4 separate regions of the Homo sapiens genome follow, and regions 1, 2 and 3 are each reported to be linked to region 4. The links are microRNA targets in miRTarBase. Many come from high-throughput screens and were not tested one by one. Region 4 holds a microRNA gene; each other region holds the end of a gene's coding sequence.
Evidence for each region. The annotated mature microRNA hsa-miR-3191-5p reads CUCUCUGGCCGUCUACCUUCCA and lies in region 4 at 2,231-2,252, opposite strand. An mRNA with a match to its seed (bases 2 to 7 or 8) in the 3' UTR can be bound and repressed. Matches are read on the target gene's strand: a 7mer-m8 pairs with bases 2 to 8, a 7mer-A1 pairs with bases 2 to 7 and ends in A, and an 8mer does both.

Region 1: miRTarBase lists TRAF7 as a target of hsa-miR-3191-5p. Seed matches in the 3' UTR shown: 7mer-A1 at 2,095-2,101.
Region 2: the mRNA of NCK1 is a reported target of hsa-miR-3191-5p. The part of its 3' UTR that is shown has no 7-base or 8-base seed match.
Region 3: the mRNA of LTF is a reported target of hsa-miR-3191-5p. The part of its 3' UTR that is shown has no 7-base or 8-base seed match.

Annotation. Positions count from the first base shown.
Region 1 is chr16:2,175,725-2,179,937 of GRCh38, forward strand. TRAF7 (TNF receptor associated factor 7) reads left to right here. Exons shown (of 21, transcript NM_032271.3): 18 at 110-229; 19 at 325-456; 20 at 541-660; 21 at 836-2,405. The coding sequence ends at 850. CASKIN1 (CASK interacting protein 1) reads right to left here. Exons shown (of 20, transcript NM_020764.4): 18 at 3,869-4,213; 19 at 3,178-3,601; 20 at 1,456-2,922. The coding sequence ends at 2,826. Among named protein-coding and RNA genes, the nearest start is that of CASKIN1, 19 kb to the right of the region's middle. RefSeq lists an enhancer at 2,104-2,605.
Region 2 is chr3:136,947,883-136,952,074 of GRCh38, reverse strand. NCK1 (NCK adaptor protein 1) reads right to left here. Exons shown (of 4, transcript NM_001291999.2): 4 at 469-3,816. The coding sequence ends at 3,622. All of the region lies in intron 3 of IL20RB-AS1 (IL20RB antisense RNA 1), which reads left to right. Among named protein-coding and RNA genes, the nearest start is that of IL20RB, 8.0 kb to the left of the region's middle.
Region 3 is chr3:46,432,764-46,436,976 of GRCh38, forward strand. LTF (lactotransferrin) reads right to left here. Exons shown (of 17, transcript NM_002343.6): 17 at 2,882-3,466. The coding sequence ends at 3,432. Among named protein-coding and RNA genes, the nearest start is that of LINC02009, 11 kb to the left of the region's middle. RefSeq lists a silencer at 475-769.
Region 4 is chr19:47,224,760-47,228,759 of GRCh38, forward strand. It overlaps MIR3191 (microRNA 3191), which reads right to left and starts at 2,260; the gene lies at 2,185-2,260. It overlaps BBC3 (BCL2 binding component 3), which reads right to left. Exons shown (of 4, transcript NM_014417.5): 2 at 3,399-3,687; 3 at 1,805-1,995. The coding sequence starts at 3,672. It overlaps MIR3190 (microRNA 3190), which reads left to right and starts at 2,183; the gene lies at 2,183-2,262. RefSeq lists enhancers at 615-1,114, 2,323-3,265 and silencers at 1,188-1,747, 1,242-1,408, 1,778-2,077, 3,298-3,737.

The DNA.
Region 1 (4,213 bases), not on the chromosome of region 4:
CCCCTGGCTGGGTGGGTGGGCTGCCCAGCAGTGCTGAAGCCCTGGGGGTGCGGGGGCCCTGGGGGTGAAGCACCTGGCCTGGGACCAACTGGCCCACGATTACTCATAGATCTGGGACATCCGAACCCTTGACTGCATCCACGTCCTGCAGACGTCTGGTGGCAGCGTCTACTCCATTGCTGTGACAAATCACCACATTGTCTGTGGCACCTACGAGAACCTCATCCACGTAAGGCCTGGGCATCTGGGTGCAAGGCCAGACTGTGGCCCCGTCTCCCCCGCCTTGCTCAGTGTCTTTGACCTGCCTGTGCCCACCCCTCCCAGGTGTGGGACATTGAGTCCAAGGAGCAGGTGCGGACCCTCACGGGCCACGTGGGCACCGTGTATGCCCTGGCGGTCATCTCGACGCCAGACCAGACCAAAGTCTTCAGTGCATCCTACGACCGGTCCCTCAGGGTGCGTGCTGGCCCAGCGGTGGCAGGAGGCTCAGAGGGCTGGCAGCTGAGCTCCGGCGGGCCCTCACGTCCCATGTGCCCCCAGGTCTGGAGTATGGACAACATGATCTGCACGCAGACCCTGCTGCGTCACCAGGGCAGTGTCACCGCGCTGGCTGTGTCCCGGGGCCGACTCTTCTCAGGGGCTGTGGATAGCACTGTGAAGGTCAGTGCCCGTGGCTCAGGCCATTCAAAGGGGCTGCACAGGATGGAGCGGGGGTGGGGACGAGGAGCTGGCAGCCCCAGCACAAAGTGGTGGAGGGCAGGTACGTGTGGCAGGTGTGGCTGGGGCAGGGCAGCCGGCCGCAGGACATCCTGGTGAAGCAGCCCTTTCTCTGCAGGTTTGGACTTGCTAACAGGATCCAGGCCAGGCTGTGGTTTCCCCTGAACCAGCCCTGGACCTTTCTGAGCCAGGCTGGCCACATGGGGTGGTCTCGGGGTTTCTGCCTGCCCCGTGGGCATAGGTGGACAGGCTCTGGCAGCCGGGCAGTGCCCTCCCCGTCCCATGCTCGGCGAGCCTCCCTCTACTCGGCACTGTCCTTGCTGCCCAGCCCCTCTCTGGGTGCCAGGTACGACGCTTGCCCCGGCCCACCCTCCATCCCCACCCTCCATCCCCACCCTAGATGGAGCGAGGGCCTTTTTACTCACCTTTTCTACCGTTTTTAGACTGTATGTAGATTTGGTTACCTCCTGGTTGAAATAAATGCTCCACAGACTGTGGCTGTGAGTGGGGACAGCTCCTCGGGACAAGGGGGCTGTGTGTGGCCTTGAGGTTGGTGTGCACAGGCACTGGCTGCTGTGAGTGGGGGGGCATGGGGCAGTTTCCTTTGGTGGACCCCAGGACTTCGGCCCACTCCGGGGCCTCCCCTCCCTGCTAGGAGGCAACTCGTCACACCCAAGCTGCTGGCCTCCAGTCCCATCTCCCCCAACACATGTGCCCCCAAAAAGTGAGCCAGGCACCTCTGTTTCCTGCTGTTTATTGACAGCCGACGGCAGCGCCTTGCCCAGACCTCCCCTGCCCACCTGCTGGAGCCCAGCCTGTGCCGCCCTCTGAGGAGAGGCCTGGGGGGACAGCTGGGCACGTCCACTCGCAGGGAAACACGGGGTGAGACAGCAGGAAGGGGCCCTGCACGCCGGGACGCCACCTCCGCCAGCCGCCTCCACCCGCCCCACACCACAATCGCTGGTTTTCGGCATTTTTTAAATTTTTTTTTTAAGAAACGTCAAAGTTGTGCCCAACACTGTGGATCAGCAAACACGATAGAGGAGACCAGTCAGTACTTCTTGGAGGGGGCAGGAGGAGAGAGGAAAAGGGAGGGCGAGAATGACCACACAACACAGCCTTGGACCATGAGCAGAAGCGTCCGTGGGAACTCCACTGGGGTGGATGGGCTGCCTGCACAGCCCCTGGAGAGGGGGCCAGGCACACCCTCAGAGGAGCTGCAAGCCCGTGGCCTGGCCTGCTACATGCCCTGCTTCCACGTGGCTGCCACGCTGACACACCCACATTCACCAAACCCACCCGCGCCCTGGGACGCAGCCACGCCAGGAGGAGGACACGGCCGCCGAGAGCAAGGCACAACCTCGAGTTCTTGGGGCGCAGAGAACTTAGGAGAGAAGCACGGAGGAGCCCCCGGCAGAGCACCCGCCCCCGGGCCCCAGCCTTCCACCTGTGCTAGCAGCCTGGGGCCTCCACTCTGGCCGGAGGAAGGACCGCAGGCAGACAGCCTGGGCCTCTAACAGCTTTTGTCCGGAGCTAGACTTCGTGTCCTTTCAGTTGGTAAATGGTTTTCTATAGAATCAATAATATTTCTTTCTTTAAATATATATTTGTTAAAGTTATACCTTTTTGTTTCTCTGGGGAAATCCGCCTCAGCTCATTCCCAATAAATTAATACTCTTGATAGCTTATATTCTGGGGGTGCGGTGGGGCAGGGGGGCCCTGACCTTGGTCCCCTGTCCCTTGTGCTGCGCCCGAGCGGCTGGCCGGGCGTCCCGATGGGCAGTTCTGTGCTGGGCCCGGGCCTGTGCGCTGCCCCATCCCTGGTCCCGGGGCGCCCTCCCCTCCCGCGCGGGCAGGAGGCCCAGCAGGTATTGCACGGGGAGCAGCAGGTGGGGAGGACCCGCGGGCGCAGGGTCTGCCTAGAGCCCTTGGAGCCCCCGGCCAGGCGGTCCCCGGTGGGCGCCCCGGCCCGGGTCCAGGGGCCGGAGTTGTGCTTCTGCAGGGCCCTGCCCGGCCGCTCGCGCCGCGCCCAGACGCGCCCATCCTGAGGTATAGGTCAGTGTGCGGGGAGGGCCCGGGCGGCGCGGGAGGGCCCGGCCAGGCGGCGTTCACTCCAGCATGGCATCCAGCTGGTCGGCCAGGTCGTCGAACATGCTGCCGATGTCGTCCAGGATGCTGCCAGTGCTCTTTTCCGCCGCCGAGTCGCTGCGGGGCGCGGGGCAAGGGGCGTGAGTGGGCGGGGCGGGTCTGGCCACGCCCACCCCGACCAGGACACGCCCACGTCCCGCATCTCCGTCGGCTTCCGCCTACCGCACGACGACCTCGGCGGAGCCCCGCTCACGGCACGCCCATCTCTGCCGAGCCCCGCCCATCTCTGCCGAGCCCCGCCCATCTCTGCCGAGCCCCGCCCATCTCTGCCGAGCCCCGCCCTCCGCCCGCCAGGCCCCGCCCCGCACCTACCGCGGGCCCTGCGCGTCCTCCTGCCGGATCTTCTCCTCCACCGCCTGCAGCGCCGCGGCCAGGCACGCGCTTGTCTCCTCCAGTTTCTGCCGGGCGCTGTCCCCTGGCGAGGCGCCTTCGGGCGGGGCGGGGGGCGCGGCGGCGGCGGCGGCGGCGGCGGCGGCGGCTCGCGGGGGCTTGGCGGGCACGTGCAGCGCGGGCGCGCCGGGGGACGGGGGCTTGGCGGGGCTGGCGCCCAGCGAGGGCGGCGTACCGGGCGGCTTGGCGAGGGCGGCGGGCGGCTGTCGCGCGGGCGAGGGTGCGGGTGAAGGGCCGGCGCTGCCCGAAGGCAGCCCCGCGACCGCCTTGACGGGCTTGGGCGCTGTGGGCGGCGGCGGCGGCTTGGGAGACACGGGCGGTGGCGTGCCGTGGGCGCGCTTCACCTCTGCGGGGAGGACCACGCTGGCACCGAGCGGGCACGAGTTCCGCCGCCGCGCCCCCTGCCCCAGCCTCCCGCGGCTTCCTCCCCAGCGGACCGGGAAAGACCCTGCTCACCTTGCCCCCAGCCCTGGATGGATGAGAGGGTCTGGGGACACGTTCCCACCCCACCTGGGCTTCCATCAAACCCAAGAAAAGGAAAACCCCTCAGACCACCGAGTAAGGAGGTGGAGCAGGGTCCTGTTGCCCCTTCACCCCACCCTGGCTGGCCTACCTGGGCTGCCAGGGCCTGGCAGCGGCACCTTCTTGGAGGTGGGTGTGGGCGAGCCCTGGAGCTTGGGCACAGGCTGCGTCAGGACGGGCTTGGGAGAGACAGGCGGCTTGGCCGGCTTCCGGGCTTCGCCCTCGGGCGGGGGCAATGGGGGTAGGTGCGCCAGGTCGGTGGGCGGGGGTTCGGCAGGCGGGGGCGGTGGAGGCAGCTCCGGAGGCCCAGCCTGCTCCGAGGCCGGTCGGCGGCGCACGGTGCCAGTGCCATTATGGTACACGGACAGTGGCGGTGGTGGCTCAGGCCCGGCCTCCCGCTCCTTGGCCTTGGGCCTGCGCTTGACCGTGTCAGACT
Region 2 (4,192 bases), not on the chromosome of region 4:
GCATCTGGAGATCTCAACTAGGGGGATAAGGGTTGGGAGTGTGAAAGTTAATTATACAAATTGGGTAATTATTGTCATACCCAACCAAATCAGATTCAATGCATTAAGGGGAAAAAGTACATGAAGGACATAGCAGCTGCTCCAAGAACTCAGTTTTCCACAAGCCCAGCTACTTAAACAGACTACTGTAAACCCTAAGACCAGTTTTACCTAGTAGCTGCTGAAATGACCTGCTGTGACTCTAAGACTGGTTTTACCTATCACTGTCACACACCAATCAGAGCTTGCCACCTCCCAAAAACTTATCTAGAACCAATGAGTTTTCTTTCAAAACATACGTAACATTTCTCTTTATAATAAAACTCCCCATCTTCTCTGTTCTTTAGACATACCAAAAACTACTGTCTGTGTATATGCCCTGAATTACAATTCTTGCTTCCCAAATAAAACGTTTCAGAGATTCGTCTCTATATTTTGACTTGAAAGAAGACTTTATTATACTGTTTGAATTTTTTCACCATGTGCACTGGTAAAGATAAGAGGACCATCCATATTAGATTCCAGCTCATTGTTGACTTGTGGGAATTCAACTCATGTTATTAGCTTCTCATTTTTAAAGGGAAACAAGAAGTCTGAATTTTATGTGAAACTCCCTGATTTTTAAATGTTGGCAATTAATTTTTTAAAGCACTGTGTGGGTTGAACAACATTTCTGTATAAGGCCACTGTGTTTAGATGTACCCTGAAGAAGGTACCCCAGCAACAAGGTGGGAGTGAAATTCAAACTTCTAGAGAAGGGCTGGGCCTGCCTAGAGAATTCTCACAAACGTGCTACAGAGACTGTGACAACTCTGCTTCTATGCAACCTCTGGATTATATGGTAGGACATTACAGCTGGAGATAATTTAAGTGCCATATTCTGCAAGAATGACCTTATTCTAACAACCCAAGTTGCCCATCTGCTAGGCCTATTTATTCTTCTAGCAATGGCAATAGATTGCATGAAGCCTATTTTGTTTAGCAGTATTATTTGTCACTAATAGTGCAAGGTGCATGTGTTAACTGTATAGTGATATATGTGTAATATACATGTGTGAATATATATTCAGCTGAATCCTAAGGTTTTATGACTAAATAAGGGACACAATGGCATTTGTTTTTGTCACAAAGCTTATATCATGTTCTAAAAAACCTTCTAAGATTTTGGGGAAGTTATTTGTAGAAGTGAGTTAGGCAGGGTTCCATCTGACACATGTATTTAAATTTGAAACTAAGCATTCTCCTCATGTGGAAGAAAACTTCTGTAATATTGCCCTTCCCAGGACTCTCCTCCTAGTCTAAAACCAAGCATACACAGAGTAGTGTGTCACGATACAGACACCAGGCTGGGAATAAGGAAACTTGGTTTCTTATACAAGTATTGTTACTATCTAGCTATGTAGAGTTTTCCAGGGTTGTTTCAGTTCTTAAAGTTACTTCAAGTATTATAAAAACAGTCACTGGTATAAGCATTGGATTAAGACTTTTTAAAAATTGGTAAAATATTTAAGTACAAAATAAGTAGCTTCCAGCGAGGTTTTTATACCATAGTAAGAGCACACAATAGATATTACTAGCACACATGGGTTATCTGGGAGCGCTATAGCTACAATAAACCTAATTATGGAACAGAAATTTGCATTCTGTTTCCAGTGCTACTACACTCCTACTTTCTCAAAAGTCTGCTCTATTAATATCAGCTCAGTGCAGTTTACTATGAATAGTTTATGTCTGTGATGCAAAGCATTAATTGTTCTCTTTTTACAAACATACATTTTTTTCATAAGGAAGACTGGGGGAAAACCCAGAAACATACAGAGAAAAGGAAAGCATCATCAAATATATGTTAAAAATTAAGATGATGTTTACTACTAGTCATCCTACAACAATTTAAAGTTTTCCTCAATTTATATTCATTTGATTTTACAGCAAAGATAAGCATACATGATTTTTATTTCCATTAAAAACTTAACTACTAATAATTACCCTCAACAAAGGAGTACTGAGTTAGAAAAATAATAGAATATGAACTAAAATGTTTTAAAAGCAGATGTAATAGAGATGAAAATTTGTCTTAATTATATTTGGTCACTTCTGTTGCTTAGTGGGAGAAGCCATGGCTGCCACCCAGTGGCAACATAAGTCTTTAAATGATTTTAAGATTTAAATAATATTTAAAACATTGATAAAAAAAATTCACAAGTTACACAACTTCAATTTTACCATCAGTAATTCTGGCGTATTAGATATCTATTTATAACAGCAAAGAATTAAAACATCCATATGCTTAGGCAGCATTAGGGAATTTGTTGAAAGTATCATACGACATCCTACTCAGTTATGTGGCTTTAGTATTTTTCAATTAAAATACTGATGGCTACTTTACTTAAATTTAAATCTCCAGAATAATAGGGGGACAAATTATGACCATAAAATACAACTGGTTTTCTTCTATAGCCTACAGAAGCAGATTGGCCTCTTATCCATACACCCAAATTCCTACTTGGTTAAAAAACAAATTAAAAAATTAAAAATAATATAATTTTCCCTAACCATGAGCACATTCTATTTTTTCCTCAGGTATACATCAGTTTTAGTGTCCCAATCAACAAAACTTAAAGCTGAAAAGAGGAAATGAAAATAGGTAATACCATTCCTGACAATTACTGATATTTAGTGAGGAGAAAAAAACAAGTATCTCACTGCTTCCTGTTTTTGCAAAACTTGGCCATAACTTATTTCCCACTGGCATAAATATAACATGTCCTAATACAAGATGCTCTAGAGGTAAAATAATACAAGTGGGATTAAAAAAATAAATAACACTAGAGCATCTATTTACAGTTTGAAAAGCTAAATATCTCAGAGACTGTTTTGTTTTCTTGAATAACCAGATGAGGGAGAAGCACTGGAAAAAAATTAAGTGATTTTTATTTCCAACAGTTGTAAATTAAAATTGTACAACATGTTTTCTAATCTATGTCTCATGTGTCTTGCTGTATGACTGAAGACAATGAATGTATTTTTAAAAATTATGGCAGACACAATATACTTGGTATTTACAATGGCCTGTGACAAATATAATACCTGGAAATAATTTCTAATTTTCCACTTATTATTGCTATTTAGTCACAGAAAAGATTAACACTCTCCAAGAAATTTTAGCATATGTCATATATAGATATAATAATTTTATATAATGAAAAACCATAACAGAACAGGGTGCCTTTACAAGGAAACAAAGGAAAGGCAATAAAGGATTTCTTCCATATAAAGATTCTGATATGCATTATTTGATTTTTGTTTACAAAATACAAAACTGTAATATTAGAAGCAAAGGGAAAACAGCAAAGAAAAAAACAATAAAACAGAAGGCCAAGGATAAGGAACTGTTCTATGCAGATGCACTGCATACATAGTATATATGTATGGGCTGAGTTATAATAAAAATACTTATTGTCAATTCTCATATAGATTTAGAAACAACAATTTCCAATCAAGCACGACTGGACCCAACATTTTCTCAGTCTTCAATTACATGACAAATTACAGCTACACAGCAGTCACTTCTGGTCAGCAGTATCATGATAAATGCTTGACAAGATATAATTTTTCTCCTTGTTCACTTGTAAAAATTGGTGCCTTTTTGTAATGTTCTACAAGTTCTTCCATGGTGCTGAATTTACGCTGCCCAATGCAGTAGACAGTCTCTTTTAGTTGGACTTTAAAATGCTTGTTTTTCCCTTGTGCTTTTAGTGATACTGAGAAATCATTTGGCTAAAAGAGAAAAAAAAGATACATATAGTAAACATTTTGAAAGCCCTCTATCAGTATTTTTATATTAAACTAAAAGCTAAAATCTAAGCACTTACTAAGTCCTAGGCACCATGGTAAATTATTTACATAGATTATCTCCTTTACTCTTCAAAACAAACCCTTTTTACACATGTGAAAACTGAGTCTCAAAGAAGCTATTAATAACTTGGCCAATATCATCCATCTAGTTAACAACAGAGCCAGGATTCAAACCTGCATAATCAAAAGTCTCTTAACACCCACGGCTCCAACAGCAGACACCCACAGCAAATCCTTTAGTTAAATATTTGAAGAACAAGAGCTATCTTCTCTCCAGTCAGAGAAACACATGAGAAAG
Region 3 (4,213 bases), not on the chromosome of region 4:
AATCACACTCATATTTGTGTAACCAACTTAGAATATAACCAAAGTGAGTATCTGTGGGACGTTGTGAAAGCCCATTTGCAGGGAGCTTTCACATCTAACATCACCTTTGATATTGGTGAATTACAAAACAAAATTCTTGATTTACATAGGCAAATTCAAGAGTTTCAGCCTTCTTTAGAAGACTGGACCAAATTCCAGCAAGGCCTGGAGAGCCTCAATCCTTGGACTTATCTAAGGCACTACATTAACATCTTACATGTAGTTCTTGGAATAATATTGTTTTGTCTCTGTCTTCTGTTCATAGCCTGTAAAATTGGATGGACCACCAATCGGAAAATGAGAGCTGCCCACCCTGGCCTTACATTCTTTCAATTAATTCATAAACAGAAAGGGGGATATTTAGGGAGCCTAAGGCTCGTGGGACTGACCAACTCATCATTCCACTGGAGGCTATATGATAAAACAGCAAACTGTTTATCATGAATGCAGGATGTGGGCAAACTCACGACTGCTCCCACTGCCAGAAGGTTTGCTGAGGGCAATCACTTCCTGGCACCAGGCTCCTTGAGGTTATCTACTGGGACATCTGGAGAATGCAGTCTTGCAAGCCTACTGTGGACTGAGCAGCTGATCCCTTCTTCCACACCCCCCTTCTCACTATCTCTTTTGTCTAATCACTACGGAGGGTTGTGTAAAGCTCAGGGCCCTTGTCCACTAGAGGCAAAGTGCCCCCTGACCGCTTCTTCCAAATATACTCTTTTGTCTCTTGTCTTTTATTCCCACGTTTGCCCCCTTTGTTCAGTTTCCCTAGGTCCATGTGGGTTACATAGTGGCAACCTGAACAATGACAGAATCAGGTGCTCTACAGAAATAACTTTTTAAGGAAAGATTTGGGACTTAGAGACCCCAGGAGACATACACAAAAATGATAAGAGGATGTGCCCAAACCAGTCTTAAAGTTGTGGCACAGGGTGAGGAAGATGAAGCTGTTACTGAACCTCAGAGAGTGACTGGTGTTACAGCAAAAGTTAGCAATGGCCTGAAGGGAGGGTTTCTGAAATCAAATATGAATGATTCCCCCTCAGGGAACCCAACCTTGGGAACTACTGCATGGTTCTCTGTATGGGAAAATATCATTAATGCAGGATAAATTGTGAAATATCACAGGAAGCATCCTGCATCTAGTCAATCTTCTGTTTCTGGGGTGGCCTGTGCAGCTGTGCAGGCAGAGGCCCAACCATCCTGGTGAGTGGCACACAGGGACTGAGATCCAGCCACACCTACCAGGCCATGCTCTGGGAAGGGGGTGGGACCTGGGCAAAGGACACCTCTCTAGGACTGCAGAGAAGCCTTTGTGGGTGGGTGGGACATTCCTGTGATGGCCTTCTGGCTGGGCACTATGAAATGCTCTGAAGATTTTTCCTTGCACTGTTGCACTAACCCCAGTCCTCTATCACTGCCCCTTCCTCCTGGGCGACTTCACTGATGTTGTGGCCATGTGAATTCTCTGGCCAATGAAATGATAAAGATGATATGGCCTCTGCCAAGCAGACACTGTAAGTATTATTGTATGATGCTTTTGTCTCTTTTTTTTAAGTTAAAGCAGTTTATTAAGAAAATAAAGGAATAAAAGAATAGCACTCCATAGGCAGAGCAGCTGCCTCTGTCTCTTATATTTTCCCCTCTGCCTCAAGCCCAACATGCCCAAAATTGGGGCTGCTGGTTCAGCCTGGGTCTCAGAATAAAGACATGAGCCACAGATCCATTGCTGACCCATGATGGAGATGGACACAAGAGAGAAACACATTTTTGTCATGTTAGCCACTAAGATTTTGATTTGGAGGCCATTTGCTACAGCAATATAACCTAGCGTGAACAGAGAGACACAGCGATGTTCCATTTCTTTTCAACCTGGAACAGGAGAATTTCATAGGTGGGCCTCAATTTCACTTTAGTATCTTATTTAGACAAGAAAGTTCATACTGTTCAAATGTCATGTTTAAGAGTGCTGGCATTATCACTGCTGTGGCTACCCCATCAGATGTTGCTCACTGACTAATCTTCTCATGTTAGTGAGGATGGACAACATATCAGGCCATAATTCAAAGTAGCAAATAGGAAAAGAGCTTCATCCTAGCATTATGGGACCTTAATTAATGTCCTTTCCTGACAGGTTTCAGAGGCTTTTGCAGGCAGCAGCAGAGCTATTCATCTCACTGACAGTGGGGAACATGGCCAAATGGTTGCCCCCACAATGGAGGCAGAGTTTCAGGACACTTGTCTGATCTCTGCCCTTGAAGGAACAGTCTCACCCTGATTGACACTTTTGCCTGTTATGTCCAAAGAACCAATGGAAAAGCAGGAAAATTATTCCTTCTTCATTTCTCTCTTCATTATTTAAAATTATTCTGTCTTCACTTCTCTCTCCTTTTCTCTGCTTCCTACTTAGCTCTTTAGAAATGCAATTATAATCTTTTATCTCCCCTTCACCAGACACTCCCAACAGGGCAAGTTCATCTAACTATGTGCTCTTAGTTAGACGCTACAGAGCAGAACTCTCTCCCACCAAGAGACTACCTTGAGACATAACAGTCAATTCACAAGCCAAAATATGCCCGCTATGAAACTCTCCCATCTGGAAATTTTTTGGCTGCTTTTACAACCTAGTTTTGCCCACAAAGGCACCAGCAGTAACCAACTCAACTGCCTGGTAGACAAGGCACCAAAGCCAGTACCCAGACCCTCTACCTGCTCACTTCCTGCCTTGCATGCCACGCCCCCCATTTAAAAGCCTCTGCTTTCTGCTCCAAAGGTGAAGCAGTTACCCTTAAGGAAAGAAGCCTGTACTTCTTCCCCTAAGGTAGCTTTGGAATAAAAGTCACTTTATACCAAACCTAGCTCTTGTTAATTAGACTCTGCAAGTGATGAGCAACTGAACCTACATTTCAGTTATAATTCCTATGCTTGCTCTTCCTGCCCTGCCTTGGGGACACGCACACACTCCCAGGCACATACATGCACGTGCACTGAGACAGCTATGTGAATAACCAACAAGATCCCCTTAGGAAAACCGGTGCTTGGCCTGGCCTTAAATTCCAGACCCTTGGGCATCATACCCAAGACTGCAAGAAAGAGGAGGGGCTGGACCTGAAAAACTTGGAAGGGAAGGTCCAACTGTACAGGTATTTTGTCAGGCATGTGATTTCAGTATAAAATTCTAGAAAAGATGAGTGACACTTTATAAGGAGAGAATATCAACAAAATTTCTCATTTTACTTCTTGCTAAGACGACAGCAGGGAATTGTAAGCAGATGGATGGGCAATCCCCACCTTCAGCAGGGGAGGCCAAGGCCCCAACACACCTGGGGAGAAGAGCTGGGGGCAGTGAATGGCTGAGGCTTTCTTGGGGAGCTGGGCCATCTTCTTCGGTTTTACTTCCTGAGGAATTCACAGGCTTCCAGGAGGGCTGTGGGACACAACAGAGCAAGAGATTCAGAAACTGATTTCTTCCATTAAACCAGTTATTTAATCCAATAAATCAAAGAGAATACTAAGAGTTTTCTCTGCCCTTCTCCCATCACTGAGTCAGTGCTTGCCACACTCATATTCCCACTCCCCTACTCCTAGCGACTACGGTGTTCAAGGGAGCCAGAGTCTAGCCCTCACCAGCCAGGGTGTTTCCCTGCTCTGGCCTGAGAGACACAACCACCCTGCACTTGTCTCTGATTGAATCGACTGTCACATTCTCAAGTTCACAAGACATTGGTGGTCCTCTAGCTTCTCCCGGAATGTGAACCTGTTTGCAATCATGTTCACCTGCAGATTCACTCATTCATTCACAGATCCTTACTGAGCACCTGCTTTGTGTGAGTTGCTGTGCTAAGTGCTGGGGACACAGCATGGATAGACTGGCCTGCCCTCAAGAAGCATGTGGTCTATGCAGTCCTGAGCTGGCTGCTCACAAGAAGAGCCCTGTAGCCATATTTCTCAGAGGGTGGTCCTGACCTGCATCACAGTGACCTGAGTTGTTTGTCAATACAGAAAAGGGTTTCTCAACCTTGGCACTATTGACATTTGGGGCCTGATAATAACCCTTTATTGCAGGGGGCTGGCTGTGCTTTGTTTAGTAGCATCCCTGGCCTCTACCTATTTGTTACCAGCAGCACCCTCTATGTTGTAAGAATCAAAAAAATGCTTCTCACATTGTCAAATA
Region 4 (4,000 bases):
TCATTCTGTCCTCCAGGCTGGAGTGCAGTGGCATGATCTCCTGATCTCGGCTCACTGCAACCTCCACCTCCTGGGTTCAAGAGATTCTCCTGCCTCAGTCTCCCAAGTAGCTGGGATTACTGGCGTGTGCCACCATGCTCAGCTACTTTTTGTTTCTTTTTTTTTTTTTGAGACAGATTTTCGCTGTTGTTGCCCAGGCTGGAGTGCAATGGCACGATCTCGGCTCACCGCAACCTCTGCCTCCCGGTTTCAAGCAATTATCCTGCCTCAGCCTCCCGAGTAGCTGAGATTACAGGCATGTGCCACCACGCCTGGCTAATTTTGTATTTTTAGTAGAGACGGGGTTTGTTCATGTTGGTCAGGCTTGTCTCGAACTCCCGACCTCAGGTGATCCGCCCTCCTCAGCCTCCCAAAGTGCTGGGATTACAGGCATGAGCCACCACGCCCGGCCTTAATTTTTGTATTTTTAGTAGAGACGAGGTTTCACCATGTTGGCCAGACTGGTCTCAAACTCCCAACCTCAAGTGAGCCACTTGCCTCCGCCTCCCAAAGGGCTGGGATTACAGGCGTGGGCCACTGCACCAGGCCGAAAATGGCTGTATTTGTTGTTTCTTTTTTGAGATGGTCTTGCTCTGTCCCCCAGGCTGGAGTTCAGTGACCCTTCATGGCTCAGTGCAGCCTCGACTTCCTTGGCTCAAGGGACCCTTTCACCTCAGCCTCCCAAGTAGCTGAGACTACAGGCCCGCGCCACCACACCCGGCTAATTTTTGTATTTTTTGTAGCAACGGGGATCTCATTATGTGGCCCAGGCTGGTCTGGAACTCCTGGGCTCAAGCGTCCTTCTATCTCCGCCTCCCAAAGTGCTGGGATTACAGGAGTGAGCCACCGTGCCTGGCTGAACATAGATGAATGGAAGCTCTTTTGCCCATATGGTGAATCTGAAGCCTAATATTGAGGGAAAAAGGAATTCTGGGGAGAAACAAAAACTATGTCATATACGCTAAGCTAAGAATGCTCCATGATTCTAAGCCCTGGTTCTGGCCTGGTAAATACGGAGTAAAAGCAACACCTGCAGGGGTTGAGAGAGGCCAACTCGAGAGATTTCCTTTGGATGCAAGGAGGGGGAAGGGATGGGGAGAGTAAGGAGCTTCACCACATGCGTTTCTGCGGTTTTGTTTGGTTTCTTAATAAGCAAGCAATGCGGGTGTAATGTTCAAACTGAACAGAGCTGCCTGGTGGGCGCATGATGTTTGTGATTTCCCATTCTCTGCTGTGGGCTTCGAATATTTGTTTTAAAAAATCGAGGCCGTGCCAGGGGCTGGGGGGCGGGGCCTCCCGCGGGGCGGGGCTGCGAGCCCACCCCTGCGGTCCCCGGCCCGCCCCGGCGCCCGGGAAACTGTGTGGCGCTGCGGGCCGCGCGAGAGGGACGGCAGGGGGCGGGCGCGGCGCGGCTGCTGACTCACCGGCTATAAATAGCCCGGGATATATGAGCCGCGCCGCCCAGCGCCGCCCTCAGTCCCCGCGGCCGCGGGCCACGGGCGCGCAGCTCCACTCCTCGGCGGCCTAGTCCCTGGCCCTGGCCCTGGCCCTGGCTCGGGCTCCGGCTATGCCAGCCGCGGCGCGGAGTCCTTGGGCGGCTCTGCGGGCGCGCGATTCCCCCCCACCCACTTACCCCCCACCTGCCTGTCCGCGGAGCGACCCAGCCGCGCAGGGCAGCAGCTGCCGCACATCTGGCGGGGGCCGCCTGCCGCCCCCTCCTCCGGCGGAAGTCCCACCTGCCGTCTACCCCACCCCCAGCACTCACCCGCCGCTCGTACTGTGCGTTGAGGTCGTCCGCCATCCGCCGCAGCTGGGCCCCGATCTCCCGGGCCCACTGTTCCTCCTCCCCGCGGACTCCCGGGGCCGCCTGGGTGGGACCGCCCGCCAGAGCCCCCGGGGCGCTGGGCACGGGCGACTCCAGGTGCTGCTCCGCCAGCGAGAGCGAGGGCTGAGGACCTTGGAGAGGCAGAGGGGCGCGGTCAGCACCCACCACCCCTCCAGGCCTCGAGGTGTCTCGGCCTGCTCCCCTCTTTCCCAGCCACTGCTCCCCGCCTCATTTCTAGTGATCCCATCGCTAGTGAGTCAATTTCTCAGCTTCTCCTCCACAGGCACCAGAAAGCAAGAAGTACCTGGGGACGCCGCTCTGGGGTCACCTGTCTGGCCAGCTACGTCCCCACGGCCCTTGTCAGTGTGGAAGGTAGACGGCCAGAGAGGTGACCCCGGGGGTGGTCAGGCTTAACGACCTCTATTTTCCAAAGGGGCCACATTTTGCCTTTTCCATGTGACAGGCAGGGAAACTGAGGCCCGCCCTTAGGGAGTATCCCAAGGTCACACAGGGATACAGTGACTGACCCCACCCAGATCACAAGCCTCAGGTCTCCTGCCCTCTCGTGTCCAACCACAGGGAAGCCACACCTCCGGATGTGGCAGAGGCCTAGAGACCAGAAGGCCAGAGACTGTGGCAGCTTCAGAGCGCGGGCCTGGGGGGCTGGGACGCGGGAGATGCCTTCCTGCCCCCCCCCCCCCCCCACTTCTGAGCGCCCTAGGAGGCTCCTGCCCTCCCGTCCCACCAGGTCCTGGCCTGAGGGTTCCCTAAGGCCTACAGCCAGGGCCTCAGTTTCCACATCTGTGACCTTGGCCTTGAAATCGGTGTCCCCTTCCAGGGCTTCCAGGAACTGAGTTAGGGAAGTTTTCTCTTTCCTCGCTCCCCTTGGGCTGCCGGGACAAGATGGGGGATGGGAAACCAGGACACACTTTCCCTAGAGCGCCTGCCGGCAGGGATGGGGCTCCACGGGCACCACAGGGTTAACAGCCCATCAGGCAGGGGACCTTTAACCCTTCCCTCCCCAAGACTCCCCCACCTCCCCGAGGGGACTTCCCAACACAATGGCCCCTCCCCCTCTCCTTCCTCCGCCGGGACTGCTGAGGACAGCCCCTGGCCAAAGAGATGCAAATAAAAGCAAAAGGCCTCTCGACCCCTCCCCAGAGGCCAGAGTTGACAGTCCTCCCGCTCGGCCCACTCTCCCTGCAACAGGAATCCTCCAGGGGGTCTAGAGGACCCAGACTGGGGGAGGGGAGCTGGGATGCAGCTGTTGCCCCAGGCCCGGAAGAGACAGTGGGCTGCAATTCGGGGACTGCAGTCAGATTCCAGGAGGGACTTCCCACTTGACCTCCCCCTCCACCCCCAGCCTCCGTCTTCCTGCTTCTTGCAACACAAAGACCACATTGGCCACACCCTCCCAGTGGCCCGGCTGGGCCCGCCACCTCCCCCCGTCCTCTCCCACTTCTCCAGTTCCTCCGAGTCTCCAGCCCTCTCTCTTCCCGGCTCCTATCACCCCGGGGGCGGGGCGGGCACTCACCGTCCGGGCGCGGGCCTCGGGGCCGGCTGCGGGGACCCCCAGGCCAGCGGGAACCCCCCAGGGCGGCGGTGACGGCGGGTGGGGCGGTGGGGGCGCAGAGGTAGGCAGCGGGCAGCAGGGTGGGGGCGGCGGGGGCGGCAGCCAGGCCGGGCTCGCAGAGGCCGCAGGACACTGCCGAGGGCACCAGGCGGCCGAGCGGGAAGGGGCGCGGGCCGTCGCGGGCCAGGCCCTCTACGGGCTCCGGGGAGCTGCCCTCCTGGCGTGCGCGGGCCATGGCGCTCCCTGGGGCCTGCGGGACACGGGAGGAGGAGCAGGTCAGCAGGGAAGTACCAGGGCCCACTGTACCTCCAGCCTACCCGGGGTTAGGACCCAGATGGAGAAGAGTGGAGGTGTGTGTGCATGCGGAGGGGGTGACGGCCCCACAGAGACACGCCCAGCCGGGGGATGACACCACCGGGTCCTGGCTGGCCTGGAGAGCCTCCCGTGCATACGGTGATGGGCACACAGGAGGGACAGGGGGCACAGGACGGCTCTCACAGCAAGGACAGGGCTCACACAGGACGGATGGAGGGGTCTAGCAGGTGTGTGTATGAGGGCTGTGA